7 linked regions of the Homo sapiens genome follow. The protein of the gene in region 5 interacts with the protein of the main gene of each other region in a biochemical or structural test. Each region holds a gene or a part of one and is shown on either strand. Other genes may lie near its edges.

Evidence for each region.
Region 1: the proteins of DLG4 (region 5) and KIDINS220 interact in a test that uses a peptide from one of them, tested with the Homo sapiens proteins (one large-scale study listed by IntAct).
Region 2: the proteins of DLG4 (region 5) and MYOZ3 interact in a test that uses a peptide from one of them, tested with the Homo sapiens proteins (one large-scale study listed by IntAct).
Region 3: the proteins of DLG4 (region 5) and CAPN6 interact in a test that uses a peptide from one of them, tested with the Homo sapiens proteins (one large-scale study listed by IntAct).
Region 4: the proteins of DLG4 (region 5) and KIRREL2 interact in a test that uses a peptide from one of them, tested with the Homo sapiens proteins (one large-scale study listed by IntAct).
Region 6: the proteins of DLG4 (region 5) and PALLD interact in a test that uses a peptide from one of them, tested with the Homo sapiens proteins (one large-scale study listed by IntAct).
Region 7: the proteins of DLG4 (region 5) and GJA1 interact in a test that uses a peptide from one of them, tested with the Homo sapiens proteins (one large-scale study listed by IntAct).

Annotation. Positions count from the first base shown.
Region 1 is NC_000002.12:8,732,703-8,736,932, forward strand, and holds part of KIDINS220 (kinase D-interacting substrate of 220 kDa), read right to left. Parts: coding exon 4,166-4,230; intron 2,052-4,165; coding exon 1,953-2,051; intron 979-1,952; coding exon 742-978; intron 1-741. UniProt on the Homo sapiens protein: Promotes a prolonged MAP-kinase signaling by neurotrophins through activation of a Rap1-dependent mechanism. Provides a docking site for the CRKL-C3G complex, resulting in Rap1-dependent sustained ERK activation.
Region 2 is NC_000005.10:150,660,076-150,664,050, forward strand, and holds the start of MYOZ3 (myozenin-3), read left to right. Parts: upstream 1-1,175; 5' UTR 1,176-1,352; intron 1,353-2,865; 5' UTR 2,866-2,866; coding exon 2,867-2,927; intron 2,928-3,975. UniProt on the Homo sapiens protein: Myozenins may serve as intracellular binding proteins involved in linking Z line proteins such as alpha-actinin, gamma-filamin, TCAP/telethonin, LDB3/ZASP and localizing calcineurin signaling to the sarcomere.
Region 3 is NC_000023.11:111,267,335-111,272,237, reverse strand, and holds the start of CAPN6 (calpain-6), read left to right. Parts: upstream 1-1,754; 5' UTR 1,755-1,867; intron 1,868-4,903. UniProt on the Homo sapiens protein: Microtubule-stabilizing protein that may be involved in the regulation of microtubule dynamics and cytoskeletal organization. May act as a regulator of RAC1 activity through interaction with ARHGEF2 to control lamellipodial formation and cell mobility.
Region 4 is NC_000019.10:35,862,973-35,867,202, reverse strand, and holds the end of KIRREL2 (kin of IRRE-like protein 2 isoform c precursor), read right to left. Parts: coding exon 4,167-4,230; intron 2,556-4,166; coding exon 2,490-2,555; intron 1,047-2,489; coding exon 711-1,046; coding exon of another isoform or gene 667-710; 3' UTR 67-666; downstream 1-66. UniProt on the Homo sapiens protein: May regulate basal insulin secretion.
Region 5 is NC_000017.11:7,200,508-7,204,737, reverse strand, and holds part of DLG4 (disks large homolog 4), read left to right. Parts: intron 1-485; coding exon 486-539; intron 540-670; coding exon 671-730; intron 731-921; coding exon 922-1,046; intron 1,047-1,144; coding exon 1,145-1,314; intron 1,315-1,408; coding exon 1,409-1,545; intron 1,546-1,690; coding exon 1,691-1,835; intron 1,836-4,230. UniProt on the Homo sapiens protein: Postsynaptic scaffolding protein that plays a critical role in synaptogenesis and synaptic plasticity by providing a platform for the postsynaptic clustering of crucial synaptic proteins.
Region 6 is NC_000004.12:168,895,198-168,899,427, reverse strand, and holds part of PALLD (palladin), read right to left. Parts: intron 3,836-4,230; exon of another isoform or gene 3,676-3,835; intron 2,880-3,675; coding exon 2,829-2,879; intron 936-2,828; coding exon 714-935; intron 1-713. UniProt on the Homo sapiens protein: Cytoskeletal protein required for organization of normal actin cytoskeleton. Roles in establishing cell morphology, motility, cell adhesion and cell-extracellular matrix interactions in a variety of cell types.
Region 7 is NC_000006.12:121,447,937-121,450,227, forward strand, and holds the end of GJA1 (gap junction alpha-1 protein), read left to right. Parts: coding exon 1-60; 3' UTR 61-1,791; downstream 1,792-2,291. UniProt on the Homo sapiens protein: Gap junction protein that acts as a regulator of bladder capacity. A gap junction consists of a cluster of closely packed pairs of transmembrane channels, the connexons, through which materials of low MW diffuse from one cell to a neighboring cell.

The sequences.
Region 1 (4,230 bases), on a different chromosome or scaffold from region 5:
GGGGACCTTCTCAAGGAAATAGGACATTTTCTTCCTTCCCCAAGGCGCTGCTCCTCCTCACCGCTGCCCTGCCCTGCCCACTCAGTGTTACTCGCTGCCGCCCGCTGTGCCTCCTCCCCCGTTGTTCTCCACACCCTGCTCTGCTTTTCCTCCTGCGCTCTCCTCACTCCCGCTACTCCTCCTGCATCTCTCACTTTGCTCTGTCCCTGCCCCTACCCCTACCCCTCACCTGGCCTCCTTCTTCTAAGAATCTCCAAAGGAAGAACGCGCCTACATCTAATGCCAGACCAGAAGAAACCAATATCCGTGAAGGGTGTGCAGGCGTCCTGGAAAACCAAAGGATGGTGCTCAAAGGGACACTATGTGGCCAGTGTTCCAATGAAGATGTACTTCAACCAACAGTTACTGAATGCAACAGGAAGATCGCCTGAGAAAGGCTGAATTTGCTGACCACCCTAGCTCAAGTGGCCTAATCCCTATTGACTCTGCATGCTGTGACCCTGATGGATATCTCAGCTCTCATCAATGTCTACATGAGCTACTTTTTTGTTTGTTTCACTGACTGCCCCTCTCCACATGGATGCAGCTCCTTGAGTACAGGGAGCCCTCCATCTTGTCTCCTGTTCACTTAGGTATTCAGTAAGCATTTTCTGAATGACTGTCTAAATGCCCATATAATCTCAGTGAACTGAACGGTGTGCTTATTCTTCAATAATATGAAAAATGCCATTCAATAAATACCTGCCAACTTAGATTACTGTGACGAGGGGCACCTTCATCCAGGCCAAGCGTGTTCAGCTCTTCGAAGCTGAAGTTGAGTGTGTAGGGCGTCTGGCTGGAGAGCTCGGTGTGAGGCAGCTCGTTGTGGGAAGCGCGGCGAGCAGGCTCACCGTGCGGGGCTGGGCCACTGCTGCTCTCACTGAGGAAACGTGGGTCTTCAGGGACCACGTGGCTTTCTGCGTTTCTCATTTCTAGTACCTTAACAGAAGAAAAACATAAATATTTACACTAACAAATCATATTTTAGAAGCTTTAGAAATATTTAGAAATACCAAACATTATAAAGCTATTGCAACAGCAATGAGAAAGCATACTTCTGGTAAGTGAATTTCTAGTGAATTTGTTTTATACATCAGCTTATCTTTCATGTTCATTAATACTAAAGGAAGCAATGGTAGAAACCACCATACATATACTACACTGCAATTTGTCCATTAAATTATTACTTCTGTTTAAAACTTAACTTGAGGACAAAGAAAAATGCAGCTGGCTTGTGTCAAAACCAGAGCTGGCCAGGAGTAGGGCGGTAGGTCCAGATTTTATTCAGAACTATGGCAACAGGGGTAAGCAGTCTCACTACAGAAGGGAGTCCAACTCGGAATAAGCACGAATGAGTGGGGATCTACCACCAAGGGGCAGGGTGGGGGTCGTGGATGGAACATTACTAAGGGGAGGCAGCAGGAGTGGGGGACTCTTGGTACGCCGATGGCCAGGGTGAGCCGACATCACCTGGGGGTGGGGGGGTTAGTGAGGCGTTTGATCAAATACTGAGGGTGATCACACATGTAAACTGACTTAACAGGATTCTTGCTAAACCTGGGCAATGCAAGCCCTATAAGGATGAATGCTGAAGGTCAAGGCCTCGAAGGCTTTGAGGAGCCTGATGAGAGTTAAGGCAGGTGAAAGCATGAAGAACCGGCAGGCGGCCTCTTCCCCAAATCTCTGAGTGAAATGCCCAAAAAGGCAAAGGCTGCCAAGTGCTGCTGTGTGTATTTTCCACAACACAGGATTGCACATAAGTGTAAGAAGCAGTTTTTAAATTTAAAAAAATATGAAAAAAATACCAGTTTAGGCCAGTACTTATTGATACTGGTTTTCTACAATGTTATAAATAATTTTGAATGTTATCATAAAATAATGTTGTAAACATCACAATGTTACAAATATCTTACTGTGCTTCTGAAAAGGTGCCAGTCTCCAAAATTCATATTCATCTCTTTCTTCAGCTCATCAATGTTACACTGAGCTAACACACGGCCATTTATGTTTGCCTGAGTAAAAATTAAAACAATTATGGGTATAAAGACAGAATGTGAAATATTCTGAATTACTAGTGATTGCCAAGTATGCTTATATTTAGTTTTAAATAAGTCTCTAGAGACCAGAAAGGCTGACCAAAAAAAAGGTTATCATCCCATATAATAATACAATAAACAAGCTGAATTTGAACAACATCAGCCACTTCATATTTTCCCAAATGTCTTAGGCATTTTCTGGGACCAACCGAAGAACTAACCCTCCTATTTCCAAAACTACCTATGCTGTCATGAGCAACAACAAAACTGTTAGTTTTTGTTTTCTAATCTTAGAAAATATGAACATGAACACAAGCTGCTGGGAGGGGACAAAGACATCTGTTCTCATAAGCGTGTTGGTCACTAACAACGTTCTAAATGAAGTAGGCCTGGCAAACTTGTTTATCCGTTATATTAGATACAGATATGAAGAATGCCCACCCACTAATTTTCCAGTCTATTAAATTCACAAGGCCCGGCGCGGTGGCTCACGCATGTAATCCCAGAACTTTGGGAGGCTGAGGTGGGTGGATCACCTAAAGTCAGGAGTTCGAGACCAGCCTGGCCAACATGGTGAAATTCCATCTCTATTAAAACTACAAAAATTAGCTGGGAGTGGTGGCACATGCCTGTAGTCCCAGCTACTTGGGAGGCTGAGGCAGGAGGATCGCTTGCACCCAGGAGGCGGGAGGTTGCAGTGAGCCATGGCCACGCCACTGCACTCCAGCCTGGGTGACATAGCAGGACTCCATCTCAAAGAAAAAAAAAATCATAAAAAAGGAAGTTATTACTTTTGGTTCCCTGTAATTCTAGTTTCCCCTAAATGAAACAACAGCATTTTCTTTATTAATAATAGGTAGCTTACTGCTTTTATAAAATGTAAAACCTGACTTTATTAACTGGGGCAAATTTATGAAATAGCTATGTTTATAATCAATAGAATGTTCAGTTTCCAAGTTAATCCTGAAGAAAACAGTATACACAGCAAGTCTGTGACAGAGGTCCTGCTGCAACAATGCCGCGGAGCCCTAAGCACGGAGGAGGCCAGCGGCTCTGAGGGGCTTCAGAAAGCCGGGGTCTAGGAGCAAAGAGCTGAGTGGGGAGAAAACCACTACCCCGATGGGAACAAAATCATCACAAAGGACTCGTGTGGGAGACCCCGCTCTTTCCTGACACCAACCAGCTGCCTGAAGGAGAAAGTGGGGCTTATCCATGGAAAAGCCGGTGTTTGACTCATGCAAACAGGGACTAGCACGAGCCAGCTCTGTAAGGAAACTGACATTATCTGAAACCTTTCTAAAATTGGCTGAGATGAGTAAAATGGTGTCTACATATGCTCATAATTCTTTAAAAAACTTCTCTCAGATGTCATTCTTTCAAGTATATAAATATTAGAGGCTGGTTATTAACGTTCTACTTTATTACACAGTACTCTGATATAAAAAGTATACCTTAGTGAAATACCTACTATAAAGACTTCGTTAAAACCTTCCCCCAAATCTCAGGCATCTCTAGCCAACTTCCTGATAGCTGCTAGAATTGCAATAGGATCTTAGAAGAAAAAAAAACTATGCAAATGCATTAACCTTGCAAACCCAAACCTATGTGGTTTCATCAAATGTGACATGATCCTAAGTCCTACATGACATGAAAATGAGAATTTGGAGAAAATGAGGCAAGTGTGGCTTACTTTGATAATCACTAAATCACACTAACAAATATTACAATTAGAAAAAAATGTAACACAAAGGTTTTCGGTTCCACACTGGAAAGATGAGTTCTGTTTATCCCAATGGGAATCCCTCAGAGCTTTCTCTTTCTCATCAAGGCATTCTTTACTTGTATTACGTCATTTAAAAAAGAACATGGTAAGACAGCTACTTTATTTTATTTTATCCATTTATAAAATAAGAGAAAACAGGGCAATTTTAGAATACAAACTAGTAAGAATTATGTTTTCCATTTAGAGCTTTCCCATTTTAACAGGGAATGCATGTTTGGGAAGCTATACATAAAGTTTACACGACCCACACAGTCCTGTCTTCCGCCCCCAGCGCTGTCTCTGGTCCGTGTGTAAGTGGCTGCCTCACCTTTTTGATCGTGGTACAATACTGAGGCAGCATACTCTGGTCCAGCCCTTCTATTTGTTTCAGCT
Region 2 (3,975 bases), on a different chromosome or scaffold from region 5:
CACCTCAAAGTTCATCCAAAACTGACCTCAGTGTCTGCCCCCACCCCTCCTGCTCCTCCCCTTCCAGTCACCCAAGCATGAAACAGGGGAGTGGGACTCCCTTTCCTCACCTTCCACATCCAGTTCCTCACCAAGACCCAAGGGTTCTTCAAATAACCCTCAACTCCCTCTCCTCTCCATCTCCTTGTCACTGCCCTGATCCAGCCACCCCTGGTGACAGTCAGGTCCTCCTGCCTCCAGTCTGGCCCCCTCCAACCCATTTCCCACATGGCAGCAAAGATATCTTTGGAAAATGCCAATCCGATCACTCCATTTCACCACTTTAATCTTGTCAGCAACCCTTTATAAACACAGTTTCCTTTTGAAAGCCTGCTGGGATCTGGCCGCTGCCCCCACTGTCTGGGCTAATCTCTCAGCACTGCCCCCAGCTCCGGCTCTACTTGCCAACCCCCTACCCATCTTTGTAGGTGACATGTCCACTGCCTGCCATGCCCCTTCTCTGCCCAGTGAACTCCCACTCATCCTTCAAGGCCCAACTCCAGTGTGTCCTCCTCTGGGAAGCCTTCTCACCCCCCACCCCAGGCTGAGCTGGTAACTCCCTCCCCTGGGCTCTCCCAGAGCCTTCCCCAAAGCTTGTTTACCCGTCTGAATCTGACCTGGCTGAGCTCCTTGAAGACAGAGCCCTGCCTTATTTATTTTCAGTCCTTAGAGAGAGGCTCAGGGAATGTGAGAAGGTAGAGGGAGGGAGGGAGGGAGGGAGGAGGGGAGAAAAGAAGGCAGGCAGGAAGGAGGCAGAAGAAGAAAGGCAGGAGAGAAGAAAGGAAGGAAGAAAAGGATAAGTCAAGCAAAGATATTGAGGAGCAATTCATTCATCCATCTATCTATCCATCCATTCCTTCCTTCGACAAATATCTGCTGAGTTCCTATCAAGCACCATTCTTGGCACTAAGGATATAACAGTTAACAAGCGGAAGCTACCAGCAGCTGACCCTCAACATTTCCAGGTGACTTTGGTGTGTGCATATGTGAGTGTGTGTGTACACGTGGGTGCAAGCCCTCTGTCTGCACAGGCCTGTTGCCAGGGCACCTGTCTTCCCTAGGGTCTGGTGCTTTTAGCCTCTGGCTCCAGCTCCTATTGCAGCCCGAAATAAGGCTGTGACCCATGGCAAGGCAGGAATGATTCTCATCAGCTGAAGCCAGAGCTGGCTGCAGGGGACACCCTGCTCGCTGCCTACTGACTGCTGACCGCTGACTGCCTACAGGGACGCCACGCAACTCTCAGCTTCCCGACAGAGGTGTTAATCTTGAGGGTCTAAGATTCCCTCCTGCCTATTGTGGTCCCATCCTCTCAGGTACCAGCATCCTAGGGGAGCTTGGGGAACTCAGGGGAGTGGGCAGAGGAGGTGAGCCAATCCCCAGAGCTCCTTCCCCCGGAGAGGAAGGGCCCTGCAGTGGATCTAGGGAGTTTGGGGCCCCATGCAAGCCTCGATCCTGGTTTGGGAGGAGAGGAACTCTAAGCTCTAGGTTACCCTGCATTAAATGGGGAGGGTGTGGCTAGGATTAAAGGTGGGGAATAGGTAATGGCTCTGCTCAGGACTTTGGGATTTTTAGGCAGTAGAGGGAAGCAGCTTCTCTGTAAAATGAGAGACCCTTCCCAGCATCTGTGAATTTCTGTAAAGGGAGTGTTTATCAAGAAACAGATCTGTGGACTGTGGAATCCTAAACGGTTGTGATCGAGGCATTCTCAATCATCCCATGACCCTCACCCCAAATGCATGTAGACACACTCATGTTTACGTATAGTTTTAGGGGGTTTGTGAACACCCTAAAGCCCATCCATGGATCTCTGTGATTTAGCCTAACCCCCTACTGTTACAGATGGGGGAACTGAGGTGCAGAGCTGGAAAGCTACTTGTTCGCAGTTACAGAGAAAGCCAGGGACACCCACTAGACTCCAGTTGCACAATGCAGTGCCCACTGACTCCCAGGGCCCCTTGTCGGTGTTGGGGATACAGATGAAGGCAGATTGTTTTCTAAAGGAAGGAGTATAGGAAAACCTGGAGGCAAAGGAGAAGGGTACCCAGGTGGGTGGTCAGTCGAGGAGCTCAAGGGCTCTGCCTCTTCTCCAGAGGGCAAGTTAAGGTACCTGGGCAAGTTAAGGGCTCTGGACCTCATTTTATTTGCAAATCTCTTCCAAGATTCTTTGAAAGTGCCATGAGATACAAATAGGGGGATGGAACAGGAGGAAGAGAAGGGACGAGGGAGAAGAGAACACCACGGAAGTTAGCCCAGTAGCGGGGAGATGGGGAGGACGGGGGATGGTTCTCTCTGCTTGGTTGGACCAGCCTGTGCCCTCAAGCGTCAGGGCCAAGTGCCAAGGATGAAAGGGGCTCACCAGCCTTGCAGACCCCAGTGTAACCCCAACCTAGTCCATCCTCCCCCTTCCCCTAACTTAAACCTCCAACTTCTTTCAGCCTTGGACTAGGACTCTCCTGGGTCAACCGATGACAGTAGTGCCTGAGACCTTTGCCTGCCCCACCCGGATGCCCCTGGCACCTACTCTCCCTCTGATCAGGATGCCAGAGCTGGGAAAAGGCCCTAGAAACCACCCCTGAAGAGACAGTGCTTCCCTAGCAACATGAAAATAGATTCGTGCAAACTTGAGCACCTCCCTCTCGTTCCCTGGGCCTCAGTCTCCTCTGCACGGAGACCCTGAAGTCCCTTCCAGCTCAGACATCCCTTGCTTGTGATTTGGGGCTGGCCTAAAGCTGTTCAGGACTGGGGCAGGGTGAACCAGAGACTGGAAGGAGGTCTGGGGAGAAATGGAGGCAGCCTGGTCCATTTATGGGGGTCTCTCCTCCACAGGATGATCCCCAAGGAGCAGAAGGGGCCAGTGATGGCTGCCATGGGGGACCTCACTGAACCAGGTAAGGTGGTTCTAGCCTCATGCCTTCCTCAGACTCCATCATTTCCTTGCTCCCAGGCTGCACTCACTCTGGCCTGCTGGCCCCAGGCCTGGGCAGACAGGTGTGAGCTCCAGGCCAGCTCTGAGGGAGTGCCTGTAGAATTTGCTGCCTAGGCTGGGAAGCTTCCCTGAGGCACTGGGAGGGGTCTTGCCCATCTGTCCACAGACCCAGGAGCTGAGGCTGAGTGTCCCAGGCTGGGCCTTGGCTCTAAAATGACCCTGGCCCTGGCTTCATCTAAGGCCTCACCTCAGCCCCAAATTAAGCTCTGAAGACTCTGGTCCCAACTCCAGCCCTACCTGTGGCTGCAAGCTCTGCACACACTTGCCTTTGCCTATTACTCCTGTGGGTCTCACCGAGGCCTCTGGGTGGCCCAGGATGGCTGGGCCCCATGGCTAAGAGAGGGGAGTGGAGAGAGTGGAGTAGGGTGGGAAGACAGGGGAGTCGAGAGAGTGGAGCAGGGTGGGAAGAGCAGGCTGCCCATTTGAATACAAAACTTTCTACTTAAAGCTGATTCATCAAATGAGTAAATCATTTTTATCATTTCATTAAAAAAGTTTAAATTCATTTTTATCAATTTTAGAAGACCTCTTGAGGAACTCTTGATACAATTTTGGAATCTGTTTATTTGGTCTACTTTAGAGGATTTCAGGTATTTTAAAAATTAATTTAGGGGCTGGACACAGAGGCTGATGCCTTTAATCCCAGCACTTTGGGAGGCTGAGGTGGAAGAATTGCTTGAGCCCAGGAGTTTGAGACCAGCCGGGGCAACATGGTGAGACTCCATCTCTACAAAAAAAAAAAATTAGCCAGGCATGGTGGCACATGCCTGTGGTCCCAGCTACTCAGGAGGCTGAGGCAAGAGGATCGTTTGAGCCTAGGAGTTGGAGGCTATAGTGAGCTACGGTTGTGCCACTGCACTCCAGCCTGGGTGACAGAGGGAGACTCTGTCTCTAAAAAAAAAAAAAAAGAAAAAGAAAAAAATTAATTCAACTAAGTCAGAGTTCTCAAG
Region 3 (4,903 bases), on a different chromosome or scaffold from region 5:
CAGAGGATTTTGATTAAGCTACGGGCTGCACACTGAGTAGATTTATGCTCAAAAGACAACTAGAGTGGCAAAAAGTCTGTAAACCATGTCCTATGAGGCATGGTTTGAAAGAACTGAGGATATTTAGCCCAGAGGATGAATGACTTGGCGTGACATGCTAGATATTTTAAAGGGCTGTCATGTGAAAGAGGAATTAGAAATTGTTTGTGTGAAGCTATTTTTTCCTCAACCTAAGGAAGACCCTTTTAACAATTAGGAAATGATCAAATATGGAATAAGCTGTTTTGCATAGGGATGAGTTTCTCAGACTGTCAGAAGGATATTTCTGCACTGAGCAAGAGGATAAACATGGCTTCTAAGGTTCCTTCCAATTCCCAGGTTCTGTGATTCCCTGCTAGATTTACAAGTATGAAGGTGGAAAAGATGGCTAAAGAATATGAGCCCAGACAAAACATCCTCCGTTGATTTTAAAACCAAAATTCCATACCAGGGATATTTGCTTGAGGACTATCTCACTGTCTAGCTGAATGGTTGCCAATATTTAGAGGCCTAATTGCCCTGGACCCCTGTTTCCTTGTGCCCTACCTCTAGCTGAATTTCCATCTTGGCATAGAAGGTACAGAGGGAGTTGTAGGGAAATGCCAAGAAGGAGATCTCAGAGACCAGAGTTATAGAAATGCTCAGAACTGTTTTATGAAAACATTGGTATGGGCCCAGTGAGTGGAGAGAGAACATGCTTCCTGTCCTTGTTGAGCTCTATGTTGCTCACTTGTTATCCCCAACCCCCCTTATCTCTTACATCTTCAACTAGCCAGCAGGAGGGTTGGTGCAGGAGGAGGGGTAGAAGGAAGTAATTTCAGGTTCAAGGGTTAACAGTACACTGGTCAGGAAAGCTGAGGAATGAGATGATGAGCATCTTTACAGTTTGTGAAAATGAAACAAACAAAACAACTTGAGAATCATGTTCCTGGAATTGTGTCCAAATGAATGTCTCAGGTTGAAGGGACCAGGACTTTGACTGTGATGCAGTATAGTATTTATAGGGATCTTGCTTGGCCTTTCAGAGCAAAAACAATTATTTTCTCTCCTCTCACCTAACACAGCTGTGCAGAATCTTCATAGCCTGGTTGCTAGAAATTAGGGTTCTTATAGCTGCTGTGGAATAAACTCCATTCACTTTCCTCTTAACAATCCCTTCTCTCTGTCTTTGACCAAATGTTACCTGTTGTTTCACGAAGTGACCTTTTCTTCATTGCACCCCATTAGCTGCTCTTTCACTCCCAGTCACTTCCTGAAGTCCTCATCACTATCACAGATCTGCCTACCAGGGCCATGTCTGACCAGGGCCATGTCTGCAGCCTAGCCCATATTAACTTTGCCAACACTTCACCATTTTTCTCTGCATGTCCTCTCTCTAGTAATGTGCATGTCTGTGATATTAACCCTGGGACAGAAAAGTAAGAAATCTATCAGAATCCTCGCTGAAAGTCTTATTTCTCCTTGAAACCGAAAGAGCTTTCAAACGTGGCTTCCTGAGTTTTTCAGTTTGCTGGTGGGTGGGTCTGGAGTGGGCATCCCGTCTGCACATCTGGTAGAGGCACTTTCCACATTTTCCTCATGACTCAGGATCAGTTTCTGACTGCTGGGCGGGGCAAAGCCTCCTGAAGTTGCTGCGAGGCACCTCCCCCTGTGAGCAGAGCTTGGTACAGCCCAAATAGTTTTCAGGTTAAGAAAGCCAGAATCTTTGTTCAGCCACACTGACTGAACAGACTTTTAGTGGGGTTACCTGGCTAACAGCAGCAGCGGCAACGGCAGCAGCAGCAGCAGCAGCAGCAGCAGCAGCAGCAGGGCTCCTGGGATAACTCAGGTGAGTAGAGAGGGAATTCGCAAACTTACCCTGGAGTTTTATTTCCTGGATAACTTAGCGTCTAAGAAAGATGAAGAAACTTCAACTTTGTAGTTAACCAAACTCCACAGCTATATTTTATGGCTTGTCTGGATCAAATATGTGCCCGTTAATAGCAGTTTGAGAACTTCAAAAATAATGGAATTTTTGGTTGGTTATTTTGAGGGGTGTGTGGGGTGATGATTGTGGTTGTCTGGCAATGAAACTTTTCTGGGGATATCTGGTCAGTTTTTTGTGTGTGTGCACACACGCGTGCATGTGTATGTGTTTGCCTTCTGCTACCCAAAATACCTGGTAAGTGAGGAAAAATCACAGGGGATGGTGTTGAGGGGGAGAAGCGTGGCTCCTTTCAGGGCCTCCTTCTAGCTTCTGCTGACCCACAGCTGTGGGAAAATTATTGAAATGCGAGCAAAATCTTGGAGCCACACTGTGTGCAAAAGGCCTGTGAACTCTGGTAGGAGGGTGAGCAGGCTGTGCAGTGTTGTACAGGAGGAAGTGGTGGCCAAGTCTATCTTAACTCCCTGTCTGCACAGCCAGTGGTCTTCCTGCCCTGGTGACAGGTTGATCTTGGCTATTCCATTTTCAGCCTCTGGCCTGGCTTTGTTCCCCTCTGATTCCAGCTTTGGTTTAAACTTTGATTTCAAGATGGGGCTCCATCCTCCACTCCCAGGCCAAGTACACTGTTCTAGGGTCTTCACTGGACCACTTGATCAGAACTGGCTTTGGGTGGGGGACGGGAAAAAGGAGCGGTGCATTGTAATGGAAACAATTGGTTCTGAGGATTTGGAACTGTAAGTTTGCTGAAAAGCACATAGGAAAACTCAGCAAATTCTGCTGTCCTAACAATTACTTCTGGCTTCAGGATAAAACATCCTGGTTTGTATTATTGGTGTATTGAAATTCAGCTAATGCCTCATTTGCTAATCTTTATTGTGAAAGTAAGAACACTTTACAGTCTGAAGTAATAAACAAAAAAATTATTTGTGGACTGCTAATTAACTCTTTTATTCCTCTGGAAGTTTGTGTGTGTGTGTGAGCATGCTTATGTGCACGTGTGTGCCTGGGTGTGTGTGAATACTTTGTATTCAAATAGCGTTCTTTATTTGTCCTTAGACTCCCTAGCAGTCTAGGGAAAAAGTCTAAACACTTACATGGTCAGGAATAGGTTAAAAAGCAGGCTTTCCATATCCTTGGGAGTTTTCAGTTCCTAAATTAAAAGCAGAAAAAGTCCCTTTGTGACCCCAAAACAGTGTTTCTTTGATTAGCCTTGATTTGAAATCATCTCACCTTCTGACAGCTTGCAATTCAAAAACAAAACTTCTAAGTGCATTCTTGTGAGAAGAGTACAATATGAATTTTTAAAAGCAACGTCTTGCTTGACATATTGTGTCTGCATGTTTGCCCTCCTCCCCACCTTACAACAAATTGTGGTTTAAAAAAAAACGTTGGGAGGTCCCAGTTTTAGTGTGGGCTCTGTCACTAACTACATAACCCTGGGCAAGTGCCTTTACCTTACAACAAAAGAAAGAAGTTGTACTAAGTGATTTCTAACAGACTTTCCAACATAACATTCTATAAAATCAGAATTTGATTCTTGAAAGGCTGGAAAAGTAGACATATAGGATGGGCTTATTCGGCCAAAAGGGCAAGTCAGCCAAAAAAGGAGGGGTGAAATAGGGAGGTGTAGAGAATGGTGGAGGGGCAATTTTTATATTAGTCTTTTAAATGTTGGTGCATGTCTTATTTAAAGCACATGATCAAATTTCATTAGTTTCCCCTAAAGACAGAAAAGAAATTTAACTTGTTAAAATAAGTGCTTCCTAATACTACTGCCCTGCTTTAGCCTTATCTTTAACAATAAAGAGTATGTTCACATACATAATTTCATTACATTCTCCCAATAACACTCTGAAGTAGACAGGGAAGCTAACATATTCCCATTGTGCTATGTGGAAACTGAGGGACTGAGATGTTATGTATACTAAATGGTGATATTTTGGATTTGTTTCTGGATCTTGTAACCACCTGTGTTCCTTTTATCATTTTGAATTGCTTTTTATTTTTTGATAGAGTTATTGAGCAACCGAATTAAAATTGTGTCCTCTTTTTTTTCCTTTGAATGGCTTTGAACAGACTCTTCTCTCTGGGCCAGTAGGTACATCCTATATAAGGCAGTGGGCTGGATCAGAGGATCTCTGTGGTCCTTTTTAGACCCAGAATATCTGGTTAGAAGTTTGAATCTGAACAGCCATACATAAGTCCTGTGGTTAAATGCGTGCCCATGTATGTAAGCTATGACTCTGCCTGTGTACCTATGAAAAGCACTATTCTCTGTATACCATGTGGATGCTGAATTTGTATTACTTTTTCCTATCCAAGTCCCTTTTCTCTCACCATACCACCCCCCAGGTGTGGGGATAAGGGATGTGGATTGTGGGTAAAAGTGGTGCCTACTTCATGCCAGGGCAGAATTGGGTCTTCTGTATTCAATTTGTCTGCAAACTTTTATTGATTTTATCTTGATTTTTGCTCCAAGTACAGAACAGGGATGAAACTGAGGAAAAGGAGAAACTAGGCAGGAACAATGCCTCAGCCATGCCCTCTCTCCCTCTCCCCATTAAGTTCCCTCATGTTCTCTCCCACTCACCTAAATCCAAAGTGGCTTGTGAACCACAGACAGGATGTATTTTATCAGATTTTTTTAGAGCAAAATATGCTTTTTGCTCTAAGGCTAACCCGCAGGTTAAGAAGCAAGAGATTTTGCTTTCACGACTTGCCTAGCTTCCTCAAGCTTTCCAGTCCAGTGAGTAGAAAAAAAATACCTCTCTCTTTAAACTGCAGCCTTGTATTCTACGTGGCAGTCTCCCTCAACTTCCCTGGCAATTCTCAACTTTCTGCACTCTGGGCCCGCTCCTATCCTTTGCCTTGGCAGACACGGTTGTCCTCATATTCTTTCTCAAAGTGGTGGATCTGAATTATAATAATATTGCCTAAGAC
Region 4 (4,230 bases), on a different chromosome or scaffold from region 5:
GGACAGGTCTAAGGGACCCCTTCCTTGGTGGAGAGTGATAATGCCAGTAGACTCCCTAAGACACACTTGCCTCTTTGACTTTTTTTTATTATTAAACATAAATATTTTTATCCCAATATTTTGCCCCAACAGTGGTAATTCTCACTGTATCCCCACTCCTTGGGTCCAAGTCTTTCTGAGTCTTTAAGGAAAGTAAAATCAAGATGGTGGCCATCTTGGGTTCCTAGGGAGTATATGGCCATCTTGGCTGCATTTCCATTGGCCGAGCAAAGTTCCCCTCAGGGAGAGCCAGGGTGGGGCCTGGTATGCTCTTCATCTTCATCTATCCTATGCTACCTTTCCTCTCAATGCAGATGGTCATCTTGAAATATCTTCTTTCAGTGGCTAGAAACAACTTCCATCCCGGCCCCAAACTCCCAACACCCACTGCCCTGTCCCCATCTCTCCTCAAAGGGCCTACCTGCCATCTTGAATCTCTTTTACACCGGGGAATAGGTGGGCATATTGGGTGGCCATGTTGCTCCCACTTGGGGCATCTCCTTTGGCTGAGCTGACTGTATACAAATGCTCCTGACAAATGTAATGATCTTTCCCTCCCCTTGTGTTCAGTTTTGGAGGAGTAAGGTCGCCAACTTGTCCTGGCTCCTCAGAAATCAGAACAATCCATTATGGCAAGTTGGAGATCCCAGGACTCTTCCATTGGAAAGATGTCACACGTGAGTCTGGAGACGCGGGTGGCTAGGTGTGGGGAAGGCAGCATATGGGAAGGGGGGAGTCCCGGGGGCCAGATCTGGGGGCCCAAAGGATGTGGGTTTGATGTAGCTGGTGAAAGCTCGAGGGTGGGGTGTGGTGAGATAGCCTGCCCTGGCTCTGTAAAGTCTGCAGGGGGGGACCATGCCCAGGTGTGGGTTGAAGTCATAGAAGGTAGGGGTCCCTGGGGGCCCAAGGGGGGAGGGTGGTGGCAGGAAGAGACCTCCTCCAGGGGCTTCGCCAAGGCTCAGGCTCACACTGACTCCTCGGACCTTGTAGTAACCGTTGGTTGGGTCCTGAGGGGACAAATGGGACTCAGTAAAGTCTGTGAGCGTGCAGGGGGGATGAGGGTCACTGATGGAGAGACACACTGAAATAGACCAGACCTTGAGAGAGACAAAAAGAGACAGGAGTGGGCAGAGACACAGAGACACACATGGACTGGGAGAGAGAGAAAGTGAGACAGAGGAACAGTGATAAGAGGCAAATGGATAGGACATAGGCAGAGAAAGGTAGAGACGGAGGGATATAGGCCTGCTGAGGGGTGTCGGTGTGGAAGGTGCAGAGGGAACAGGAGAGAGACACTCACCTGCCCAACAGCCTCTAGGCTTTGATTCAGTGTCACACCCTGTGTTGCTGCTACAAGGCATGTCACTAGGATAGAACTGGACCCTGTCCTCACAGAATCCCACACCAAAGGAAAAATGACAGATCATGAGACAGTACCCAGAGGGGTCAGGGCTGTGCCTGGGAAAGGCATAGGCAATGACAGGGGCTGTGATGGTAGAGCCCTCAGCATAGTGGGTGGGATAAGGAAGCCCAGATCAGAGTGGTCATGGCTGTGATGGGTGGAACACAGGCAAAATGATCGAGCTGTCATGACGGAAGCATGGGCTTCCTAGAACAAGAAATGTCTGAGCTGAGACTGGAGGACTAAAGGAAGGAATTAGGTAGACATGGGAAGGAAGGTAGGAGTGTTTCAGGCCAAGAGAATGGCATGTCGGCTGGGCACAGTGGCTCACGCCTGTAATCCCAGCACTTTGGGAGGCTGGGGCGAGCGGATCACTTGAGGTCAGGAGTTCCAGATCAGCCTGGCCAACATGGTGAAACTCCATCTCTACTAAAAATACAAGAAAAATTAGCCAGCTATTAGGGAGCCTGAGGCAGGAGAATGGCTTGAACCCAGGAGGCAGAGGTTGCAGTGAGCTGAGATTGCACCACTGCACTCCAGCCTGGGCAACAGAATGAGACTCCGTCTCAAAAAAAAAAAAAAAAAAAAGAAGAGAGAGAATGGCATGTGCTAGGTACGCAGGAGAGAGAGAGAGAGAGAAGTGCTCTGGCCTGGGGATGGCCTGGAGTCAATGTGGCTGTCCTGAGGTAGGACCCCAGAGGAAGAACCAGTCTGGGGAGATGTGGGGCCAGTGTAGGACCTGGTGGCTGAAAGGGGGCTTGACCGTGATGAGGAGAGCACAGGCAGGGTGAGCCCTGGTCTGGGGCTCCAGATGGAGGCTAGGGCTGGGACAGATGTGTGGGAAGAGTCTGCAGACAGGCAAACTGAGGCTGGGAGCTGAGTGAGATGGCCCAGGGGGCAGGAGGAGTGGGGTGGGGAGCTGAGTCCCAACTCTGAGGACAACAGAAGGAAAAAGGAGGGGACAGGCGTGGGAGAGAGACGGAAACACAATGAAGGGAGCCCCGCCTCTCCCAACAGTGAAGGGAGCCCCACCCCTCTCAACACTCACCTTGGTCTCCAGAGTCCCTTCCTCCTCCAGAACCAGATCACTGTGGTCAGTGTGCACAATGGGGCCCTGGGGTAGGGAACTTAGTGAGAGGGAATAGTCAGAGGATCCCCCCGCCCCAATGCCAGACCCCAAGGACCTTCAGCCAGCCAGTGGAGGCCAGGCAGGAGGGAGTAAGAGCACCCAAGAGCTGGGGACTGCACTCAGGACAATAAAAGGGCTGTAAGAAGCCAGCACAGTGGCTCATGCATGTAATCCCAGCACTTTGGGAGGCCGCAGCAGGAGTATCACTTGAGGCCAGAAGTTTGAGACCAGCCTGGCTAACATGCCGAAACTCTGTCTCTACTAAAAATGCAAAAAATAGGCAGGCATGGTGGCAGGCACCTGTAATTTCAGCTACTCAGGAGGCTAAGGAACGAGAATCACTTGAACTGGGAGGTGGAGGGTGCAGTGAGTCTGGATTGCACCACTGCATTCCAGCTTGGACGACAGAGCAAGACTCTATCTCAAAAACAACAACAACAACAACAACAACAACAAAAACGGGCTGTGGGGACATACTGGGCCTAGGGAATAATTGGGTCAGGGGCATGGACTTGGGTGACATTTGGGTGTGGGGTCACTGTTAAGACTAGAGCCCTTGGCCGGGCGCGGTGGCTCACGCCTGTAATCCCAGCACTTTGGGAGGCCGAGACGAGCGGATCACGAGGTCAGGAGATCCAGACCATCCTGGCTAACACGGTATACACCTCGTCTCTACTAAAAATACAAAAAAATTAGCTGGACATGGTGGCGGGTGCCTGTAGTCCCAGCTACTCTGGAGGCTGAGGCAGGAGAATGGTGTGAACCCGGGAGGTGGAGCTTGCAGTGAGTCGAGTTCGCGCCACTGCACTCCAGCCTGGGCTACAGACCAAGACTCCGTCTCAAAAAAAAGAAAGAAAGAAAAAAAAAGACTTGAGCCCTCAGGCCGGGCGTGGAGGCTCATGCCTGTAATCCTAGCACTTTGGGAGGTCGAGGCGGGTGGATCACCTGAGGTCAGGAGTTTGAGACCAGCCTGGCCAACATGGTGAAACCCAATCTCTACTAAAAATACAAAATCAGTCAGGCGTGGTGGTGGGCGCCTGTAATCGCAGCTACTCAGGAGGCTGAGGCAAGAGAATCACTTGAACCAGGGAGGCAGAGGTTGCAGTGAGCCGAGATCGCAGCACTGTACTCCAGCCTGGGTGACAGAGTGAAATTCTGCCAAAAAAAAAAAGACTAGAGCCCTCCTACATAAAAAAAAAAAAAAAAAATGGAGACAGGGTCTTGCTCTGTAGCCCAGGCTGGAGTGCATGGTGCAATCATAGCTCACTGCAGCCTTTACCTCCTGTGCTCAAGGGATCCTCCCACCTCAGTGTCCTGAGTAGCTGGGACTATAGGTGTATGCCACCATACCCGGTTCATTTTTTATTTTATTTTAGTTTGTATTTTTGTAGAGATGGGGTCCTGCTATGCTGTCCAGGCTGGCTTTGAATTCCTGGCCTTAAGTGATCCTTGTGTCTCCACCTCCCAAAGTGGTATTACCAACGTCAGGCACCATGCCTGGCCTTAGAGTCCTATTTGAATTTGGGGACCCTCTTGGGACTGGGCTATTATTTAGGTCTGGAGGCACAGTCAGGTCTGGGGACCCTGGCATCCTACCCGGTCCTCGCGGCTGCCTGTCTCCTCTTCTTCAGGACCTCGTGAACTGGAGCCGTCGCTGCTG
Region 5 (4,230 bases):
AGATATGGGGGGTTGGGGGGATGGGGCAGGAAATGGGGACCAGGACCCGGTGGACATGATCCCTGGGGTGTCCATGTGTAGCACATAAGGCATGTAACACCCTGTGGTGTTACATCCGGTGAGAAGCTCCCTTCCCCCAAGCCTACCCCCCTCTCCCCACTCTTTGCCATCTGCTGCTCCCCTCTCCGTCTGGCTGTCTCCCTTCCCGCTTCTCCTACACCTCCTTCCACATGCAGGGGGCCCCGGGCTGGGCAGAGTTAGATCCTTGCGCGTGTGCATCTGTGCGTGTGTGTGCGCGTGCGCATGTGCACGCGTGTGCGTGTGTGTGATGTGGATTGAGGCTGGGCCCTTGAGCAGCTCTCAGGGTGGCGGAGTGGGCTTGGCTAAGAGGCTGAAAGGGTAGCCACGCTGATGGGACCCTCCGTTATGGGCTCCCTCTCGAGTCAAGGCTCAGGCTGCTTTTTGTCTCTTGTTTTCCCAAACAGGCCAATTCTCCCCCAGTGATTGTCAACACAGATACCCTAGAAGCCCCAGGATATGTGAGTTGTTTAGATTTTGGGGCTGGGGCCATTGCAGAAGGAAGGAGGGAGTAAGGGAGGGCAGCAGATGACGGGCAGGTGGTCAGACAGGAATGTCTGTCTCACTGCTTTTGTGTTTCTGTCCCGTGCTGGAGTTGCAGGTGAACGGGACCGAGGGGGAGATGGAATACGAGGAAATCACATTGGAAAGGGTGAGCAGGCTCCTCCATCGGCAGTCCCCGTGGCCTCCCGTCTGTACCTTTCTTTCTGCCATGTGGTCTGGGTGGCTAGCCCCTCACCCTGTGCCTTCCTCCTCTGGCTGCTCCAAGCCATTTCCCACCCCACTTGCCTTGCCAGACTTGGGCAGTGAGGGGAGCTGACCCTCTTCCCCTCCTTCACCCAGGGTAACTCAGGTCTGGGCTTCAGCATCGCAGGTGGCACTGACAACCCACACATCGGTGACGACCCATCCATTTTCATCACCAAGATCATTCCTGGTGGGGCTGCGGCCCAGGATGGCCGCCTCAGGTGGGGAGAGGAGACAGGGGTTAGGTTGCTTGGTCCCTGGAGAGGGAGGGCCAGGGCAGCAGGAAGCTCTTGGCTCAGGCCCACCTTGCTGCTCCCAGGGTCAACGACAGCATCCTGTTTGTAAATGAAGTGGACGTGCGCGAGGTGACCCACTCAGCGGCGGTGGAAGCCCTCAAAGAGGCAGGCTCCATCGTTCGCCTCTATGTCATGCGCCGGAAGCCCCCGGCTGAGAAGGTCATGGAGATCAAGCTCATCAAGGGGCCTAAAGGTAGTAACTCATTTTGTTCCCACCCCCATCCCAACTGTCCTGTGCCCCCAAGCCTGCTTCCTGGGCACCCACCTCTGGCCTCCCCTCCATCCAGGTCTTGGCTTCAGCATCGCAGGGGGCGTAGGGAACCAGCACATCCCAGGAGATAATAGCATCTATGTAACAAAGATCATCGAAGGGGGTGCTGCCCACAAGGATGGGAGGTTGCAGATTGGAGACAAGATCCTGGCGGTGAGGACTCCATCTAGCCCATTTTCTAGCCCAGATTTGGGTCTCACCTACTAGCCCTGGCAGGCCCAAGTTCATCACTTCACCCCAGTGCTTCTGTCTTGGGCCATTTGTGGCTTTGTCTGAGCTTTGCTTTCCTTGACTCCAGGTCAACAGTGTGGGGCTAGAGGACGTCATGCATGAAGATGCTGTGGCAGCCCTGAAGAACACGTATGATGTTGTCTACCTAAAGGTGGCCAAGCCCAGCAATGCCTACCTGAGTGACAGCTATGCTCCCCCAGACATCACAACCTGTGAGAGCCCTTCAAACACCAAAGTTCCCCATGACCCATCCCGTTTAACCCATGACATGCAGTCCCACGACATCCCTGTAGCTGTCCCTCTTCAGATATTCCCTATGAAATAGCCACAACCTCTGATCCTTGCTGTTGTTGGAGAAGAGATGGAAAATCAATTACCATAAAAGAACTAGAAAAGATCGTCAACGATCTCTCTCCTGGAAGGCACAAAGCCTGGTTGGTTTTATGGCTAATTTTGTGAAATTCTCAAGGAATAGATAATTCTTCTGCTCTTCCAGAGTACAGGAAAAGATAAAAGATTTCACATTTCATTTTATAAGGCCAGTTCGAATGGTCACAAGGATAGTGTAAAATAAGGAGAGTATAGACCCGTTTTGCTTCTGAATAGAGATACAAGAGTTTACAATAATATAGTAGCAAAGCAAACATGGCAGCATGTTAAGGGAATAACATAGGGTTTGTTTCAGAAAACTAAAGATGGCTCAATATTAGGAAATCTCTTAATATGATTCATATATTAAAACGTTACGGGAGGCTAAGTGTGGTGGCTCATGCTTGTAATCCCAGCACTTGGGAGGCCAAAGTGGGAGGATTTGAGACCAGCTAGGGATTTGAGACCAGCCTAGGCAACAAAGCGAGATCCTGTCTCTAAAAAAATTAAAAAAATTAGCACGTGCCTATACTCCTTGCTACTTGGGAGGCTGAGGCTGGAGGATCGCTTGAGCCGAGGAGTTGGAAGCTGCAGTAAGCCAATGATTGCGCCACTGCCCACCAGACTGGGTGACAGAGCGAGAGGAGAAAACGATGTGATTATCTTAAATAGACGTGAAAAAGGCATTTGGTGAAATTCACCATCTCTTTTGGATGAAAGCTTTTAGTAAACTAGGAACACAGAAATTTTCCTTAAGATGGTGAAGACTAGTTATCAGGAACCAGTAACAAACATTTTATAATGATACAATTTTAGCAGTGTGTCCATTAACTTATTTTTTAATTTAATTTTAATTTTTTTCTTGAAATGGAGTTTCGCTCTTCTTGCCCAGGCTGGAGTGCAGTGGTGTGATCTCAGCTGACTGCAACCTCTGCCTCCCAGGTTCAAGTGATTCTGCTGCCCCGGCCTCCCGAGTAGCTGGGATTACAGGTGCCCACCATCACGCCTGGCTAATTTTTGTAGTTTTAGTGGAGACAGGGTTTCACCATGTTGGCCAGGCTGGTCTCGAATGCCTGACCTCAGGTGATCTGCCCTCCTCGGCCTCCCAAAGTGCTGAGATTACAGGCGTGAGCCACCGCGCCCGGCCTCCGTTAACTTACAAAGAGGGCAGGGATGCCTCTTCCCACTGCTATTATTCTTCATTGCTTTAGAGCAGGGTTTCTCAGTGTTACTCCTGACATTTTTGGACCCAATAACTCTTCATTGTGGGGGGTTGTTCTGTGCCTTGTGGGATATTAAGCAGCATCCCTGGCCTCTGTCTATCAGATGACAATGGTACTCCTCCCCCTCAGTCATAACAATTAAAAAATGTTATGACAGAATTGCCCCAGCGAAATTATGGTGGTTGAGAATCACTGCTTTAGAGATTTCAGACAGTGTAACAAGACAAGGAGAATAGTTACATTTGGAAGGGAAAAACAAAAGTTATCTCTATTTGTAAATTATACTACTGTGCATCTAGATCAAAATCTAAGTGAATTAACTGGAAAAATATGCAAAGTTAAGAATGTGGCTATTTGTTGGCTGGGCGAGGTGGCTCATGCCTGTAATCCCAACACTTTGGGAGGCCAAGGCGGGCGGATCACCTGAGGTCAGGAGTTTGAGAACAGCCTGGCCAACATGGAGAAACGCTGTCTCTACTAAAAATACAAAAAAAAATTAGCTGGGTGTGGTGGCGAGCGCCTGTAATACCAGCTAATCCTGAGGCTGAGACAGGAGAATTCCTTGACCCTGGGAGGCGGAGCTTGCAGTGAGCCAAGATCTCACCACTGCACTCCAGCCTGGGCGATAGAGCGAGACTCCATCTCAAAAAAAAAAAAAAAAAAAAACCAAAACAGGCTGGGCGCGCCGGTGGCTCATGCCTGTAATCCCAGCACTTTGGGAGGCCGAGATGGGTGAGTCACCTGAGGTTGGGAGTTCGAGACCAGCCTAACCAACATGGAGAAACCCCATCTCTACTAAAAATACAAAATTAGCCGGGCATGGTGGTGCATGCCTGCAATCCCAGCTACTCAGGAGGCTGAGGCAGGAGAATTGCTTGAACCTGGGAGGCGGAGGTTGCGGCGAGCTGAGATCGCGCCATTGCACTCCAGCCTGGGCAACAAGAGTGAAACTCTGTCTCAAAAAACGACAAAAAAAAAAAGGAATGTGGCTATTTGTAAGATAAATAACAGGAAT
Region 6 (4,230 bases), on a different chromosome or scaffold from region 5:
TTAGGGGTTTTAATTTTTTCCCTTTTTTTTATTCTTTTCACTCAAGCTCTAGGGAAAAGTGTACTCCTGTTTACTGCCTTGCTGGGCTAGTAAACAGTTATTCTAGTCCTTCCTTTAAAGATAGGGCAGCTCCTTATCCAGCATTTCCATATGTTTGTATGGAGAGAGCTCCCATCCAGGTCATCCTAGTCCTGCATGGTATCAGAATTTGTCATTATCCGTTCTAAACAATATTCTTCACCCCACCTCCCTCTGTAAATATTAATATAAGCAGCCTTGGTTTTTTGATTAAAGATTGGAAGTTTTTACAACCAGTGGTGAGCATTACTTGTCTGTATGGTACAGAGCACTGGGTTCATATGCAGGCCTGGCCACTCACCAGCTCTCTGACCTTGGAAACTCACTTCACAGAACTCAGTTTAGTTATTTGTGATTTGGGAATAACAACGAGGAATAAATGATATAGGTGTGTGAAGAGCTCCCTGTTAGTTATTCTCTATTCTTCAAACCCAAACTCCACTCCCCCCACCACCTTTTTTGGTTTCTAATGCCTCCTGAAGATGGCCCAGAACTTAAGAATATTTAAAACCCTTTATATCGTGGGTATTGAGAAAGATCATTTGTATCTCTTTCTCCTACTGGCATGCTATGTTTTGGAAGCTAAACCTTTCCTCAGAGAATGACTCTTAAAAAGCCTCCATCTCCCAGCTCACCTTTGGCTTTGGATTTCCAGCCACTCTACATGTGAAAGTTACTGGCATTCCCTCAAAGATCTTGTAATGTTTCAGCTTCATCTCAAAGAATGGTGCCATTCCATTTTCCACAGGCACATCTCCATACTGAACTTCATCACCTGATTCATCCACAGGAGACCTTTCTAGCCTGTACTCTATTTCACTGATGAGTCTCTGTTCACAGCTGGAGACTTTGTATTCCTGAATCAAGGAAAGTTTAAGTTAGCAGACTCAATCCCTTCTGACAAAGTGTCACGTCTCTCCCTGCCCCCCAATAAGGCCCTAGAAGACAGTGATATTTTTACCATACAGCTTAAAAACACAGTCTGAGCCCAATTCAATTGCATATGAAACAAAAAACATCTGGAAGTGAGTTTATGTGGTATTTCAGATTGTCTTCAAGTCCTATCATCCAAAAAGAGGGGGGTAGGAAAGATGAATTTTTTTTTCCTTCTTTTCTCTGAGGCGAGGGGAAACAAGGGGAAGGAAAGAAAAAGGCAAAAGCAAAGCTATGTATTCCTAAACTGTTGATAACAATAAAATATAATGGAACGCTGATTTCCTTCTGTAGGGTAAAAGCTGATGCAGGGTGGTACATCTCTCCACATAGTACATGTGGCAAGCAGCTGCCATATTATATACAATTATAGTAAAAGAATAATAGAAAAAATGGTACTAGAAAAAATGGTAATAGAAAAAATAGTAAAAGAATAATAGAAAAAAAAAAATGTTTGTTTTTTTTCCCCCACCTCTAACAATCCCTGCCTTGCAAGGGCCGCCTCCTCAGCTCTGCAGCTGTTAGGAACCCACCATCTTTAGAAGAAAAAATAGGACTGACAGTCTAGCCAAAATTTTGCTTTAAAAAAAAAAAACAACCCATCAACATTCCTGTGGTGATTACGGTGGATCCTACAATTTCCTTGCCTACAAAGTGCATTAAAGGCCAGGTACAGTGGCTCATGCCTGTAATTCCCAACACTTTGGAAGGCCGAGGTGGGAGGATTGCTTCTGGCCAGGAGTTTGAGACCAGCTTGGGCAACAAAGTGAGACCCCATCTCTACAAAAAATTTAAAAAGAACAGTAGCTGGGCATGGTGGTACATGCCTGTTGTCCCAGCTACTTGGGAGGCTGAGGTGGGAGGATCACTTGAGCCTGGGAAGTCGAGGCTGCAGTGGGCCGTGATTGTGCCACTGCACTCAAGCCTGGGCAAAAGAGTGAGACCCTGTCTCCAAAACAAAAAAGTGCAATGAAGACAAGGGAGTCTATGTAAATATTCCCTATTTAATATTAAATGAAAGATAACTTTAACTATGTTTTCTCTTAAAGAAGTTACTCAGTGTTTAAAAAACAAGTTTGTTGGTTTGAGGGAAGAAATACAACAGTATGAATAAAACTGCAAGAGTTATACCACAAGTTGTTTTGCTTCATCTAATTACTATCAAATTAATCCCTTGAAGAATTAGCACTTTTGTTCCCCATAGAAAGGTATATATAACAAATGAAAAATTTTTCTTGATTTAATGTTCAGAGTATCCACTAATGACAGAATTAAATTCAAGTCAGAGGCCAGGCACTGTGGCTCATGCCGTATTCCCAGCGCTTTGGGAAGCCAAGGCGGGTGGATCACCTGAGGTCAGAAGTTCGAGACCAGCCTGACCAACATGGTGAAACCCCATCTCTGCTAAAAATACAAAATTAGCCAGGCATGTTGGCATGCACTTGTAATCCCAGCTACTTGGGAGGCTGAGGCAGGAGAATCGCTTGAACCCAGGAGACAGAGGTTGCAGTGAGCCAAGATCACACCATTGCACTCCAGCCTGGGCAACAAGAGCGAAACTCCATCTCAAAATAAATAAATAAATAAATAAATACATAAAGTAAAAATAAATAAATAAATTCAAGCTGGTAAATACATGACAAGAAAACTCATGTTGCAGTAATTTTGTGTATCTGATATTAAATGAAACAGACACTGGTCATAGCATTTATAATTAATATATGGCAGAAAAGATAGAAACACACGTAAAACAGGAAGAACAGAAGAAAACAGACACAGAGAAAGACTGGAAGGAGAAGAAAGGTGAAAAGCTTAACCTTTTGACCATCCAGAGGACTCCCTACAGAAGCATGAGGAGAACCAATGTCCTGTAATGGTAGAAAAAAAGATGTGAAGACTAATAATAGAAATAATAAGAATGCAGCAAGATTTCTAATTTTCCTTAAGTGAAACTTTTGTGCTAGCAATATGCGTTTGGTAGTAACGGTGCTGTGAGTACTCACACAACCATTCTGCTTCTCACTTTTGGTACAGGACTCCATAAATCACATGAGATATTCAATACTTTATTTTAAATAGGCTTTGTGTTAGATGATTTTGCCCAACTGTAAGCTAATGTAAGTGTTGTGAGCACATTTAAGATAGACTAGGCTAACCTAAGATGTTCAGTAGGTTAGGTGTATTAAATGCACTTTTTTTTTTTTTTTTGAGATGGAGTCTCGCTCTGTCACCTGGCTGGAGTGCAGTGGCACGATCTTGGCTCACTGTAACCTCTGTCTCCTGGGTTCAAGCGATTCTCATGTCTCAGCCTCCCGCGTAGCTGGGACTACAGGCGCACGCCACCACACCCGGCTAATTTTTGTATTTTCAGTAGAGACGGGGTTTCACCATGTTGGTCAGGCTGGTCTTGAACTCCTGACCTCAGGTAATCCACCCGGTCTTGGCCTCCCAAAGTGCTGGGATCACAGGCGTAAGCCACTGCGCCCCGCCTTAAATGCACTTTCAACTTACAATATTTTCAACTTATAATGAGTTTATCAGGACATAACCCCATACTAAGTTGAAGAACATCTGTATATATGTGAAAGAAGATAAAGAGATAATATTTTCTATTTTATTTTGACTAGATATTAAGACTAAACAGTTGATCTTTGAACAACACAGGTTTGAACTGCATGGGTCCACTTATATATGGATTTTCTTCCGCTTCTGCAACCCCTGAGATAAGCAAGACCAACCCCTTGTCTTCTTCTCTTCAGACCACTCTAATTTAAGACAATGAGGATGAAGACCTTTATGATGACCCACTTCCACTTAATGAATTGTAAATGTATCTTCTATTCCTTAAGATGTTCTTTGTAACATTTTCTTTTCTCTAGCTTACTTTAAGACTACAGTCTATAATACATATAACATACAGAATACGTGTTAATCAACTCTTTGTTATCAGTAAGGCTTCTGGTCAACAGTAGGCTGTTAGTTAAGTTTTTGAAGAGTCAAAAGTCGTATATGTGTTTTTAGTTTTGTTTTGTTTTGGAGACGAAGTCTCACTCTGCTGCCAGGCTGGAGTGCAGTGGTACAACCTCAGCTCACTGCAACCTCCACCTCCCGGGTTCAAGCAATTCTCCTGCCTCAGCTTCCCGAGTAGCTGGGACTACAGGTGTGCGTCACCACACCTGGCTAATTTTTGTATTTTTAGTAGAGACGGGGTTTCACCAT
Region 7 (2,291 bases), on a different chromosome or scaffold from region 5:
TCAAGCAGAGCCAGCAGTCGTGCCAGCAGCAGACCTCGGCCTGATGACCTGGAGATCTAGATACAGGCTTGAAAGCATCAAGATTCCACTCAATTGTGGAGAAGAAAAAAGGTGCTGTAGAAAGTGCACCAGGTGTTAATTTTGATCCGGTGGAGGTGGTACTCAACAGCCTTATTCATGAGGCTTAGAAAACACAAAGACATTAGAATACCTAGGTTCACTGGGGGTGTATGGGGTAGATGGGTGGAGAGGGAGGGGATAAGAGAGGTGCATGTTGGTATTTAAAGTAGTGGATTCAAAGAACTTAGATTATAAATAAGAGTTCCATTAGGTGATACATAGATAAGGGCTTTTTCTCCCCGCAAACACCCCTAAGAATGGTTCTGTGTATGTGAATGAGCGGGTGGTAATTGTGGCTAAATATTTTTGTTTTACCAAGAAACTGAAATAATTCTGGCCAGGAATAAATACTTCCTGAACATCTTAGGTCTTTTCAACAAGAAAAAGACAGAGGATTGTCCTTAAGTCCCTGCTAAAACATTCCATTGTTAAAATTTGCACTTTGAAGGTAAGCTTTCTAGGCCTGACCCTCCAGGTGTCAATGGACTTGTGCTACTATATTTTTTTATTCTTGGTATCAGTTTAAAATTCAGACAAGGCCCACAGAATAAGATTTTCCATGCATTTGCAAATACGTATATTCTTTTTCCATCCACTTGCACAATATCATTACCATCACTTTTTCATCATTCCTCAGCTACTACTCACATTCATTTAATGGTTTCTGTAAACATTTTTAAGACAGTTGGGATGTCACTTAACATTTTTTTTTTGAGCTAAAGTCAGGGAATCAAGCCATGCTTAATATTTAACAATCACTTATATGTGTGTCGAAGAGTTTGTTTTGTTTGTCATGTATTGGTACAAGCAGATACAGTATAAACTCACAAACACAGATTTGAAAATAATGCACATATGGTGTTCAAATTTGAACCTTTCTCATGGATTTTTGTGGTGTGGGCCAATATGGTGTTTACATTATATAATTCCTGCTGTGGCAAGTAAAGCACACTTTTTTTTTCTCCTAAAATGTTTTTCCCTGTGTATCCTATTATGGATACTGGTTTTGTTAATTATGATTCTTTATTTTCTCTCCTTTTTTTAGGATATAGCAGTAATGCTATTACTGAAATGAATTTCCTTTTTCTGAAATGTAATCATTGATGCTTGAATGATAGAATTTTAGTACTGTAAACAGGCTTTAGTCATTAATGTGAGAGACTTAGAAAAAATGCTTAGAGTGGACTATTAAATGTGCCTAAATGAATTTTGCAGTAACTGGTATTCTTGGGTTTTCCTACTTAATACACAGTAATTCAGAACTTGTATTCTATTATGAGTTTAGCAGTCTTTTGGAGTGACCAGCAACTTTGATGTTTGCACTAAGATTTTATTTGGAATGCAAGAGAGGTTGAAAGAGGATTCAGTAGTACACATACAACTAATTTATTTGAACTATATGTTGAAGACATCTACCAGTTTCTCCAAATGCCTTTTTTAAAACTCATCACAGAAGATTGGTGAAAATGCTGAGTATGACACTTTTCTTCTTGCATGCATGTCAGCTACATAAACAGTTTTGTACAATGAAAATTACTAATTTGTTTGACATTCCATGTTAAACTACGGTCATGTTCAGCTTCATTGCATGTAATGTAGACCTAGTCCATCAGATCATGTGTTCTGGAGAGTGTTCTTTATTCAATAAAGTTTTAATTTAGTATAAACATAGCTTCTATATTCCGTGTGATTTGTTTCCCCTGCCGAGATGGAGTCTTGCTCTGTCACCCAGGCTGGAGTGCAGTGGCGCGATCTCGTCTCACTGCAACCCTTGCCTCCCGGGTTCAAGCAATTCTCCTGCCTCACCCTCCCGAATAGCTGGGATTACAGGCACCGCCACCGCACCTGGCTAATTTTTGTATTTTTAGTAGAGATGGGGTTTCACCATGTTGGCCAGGCTGGTCTGGAACTCCTGACCTCGTGATCCGCCCACCTCAGCCTCCCAAAGTGTTGGGATTACAGGGGTGAGCCACCGCACCTGGCCTATATTTAAAACTCATTGACGGCATCTATTTGAGATTATTTAAACACATTTCTATTGGTTATCAGAACTTCAGCAAATAACAGTCATGTTTTCAGGGACAATATTTATCATTAGCTCTGTTCAGTGCAACATAAATTGTAAACATTTTTGGATATTTATTGAACCAAAAGGAAGATAAAGTGTTGAA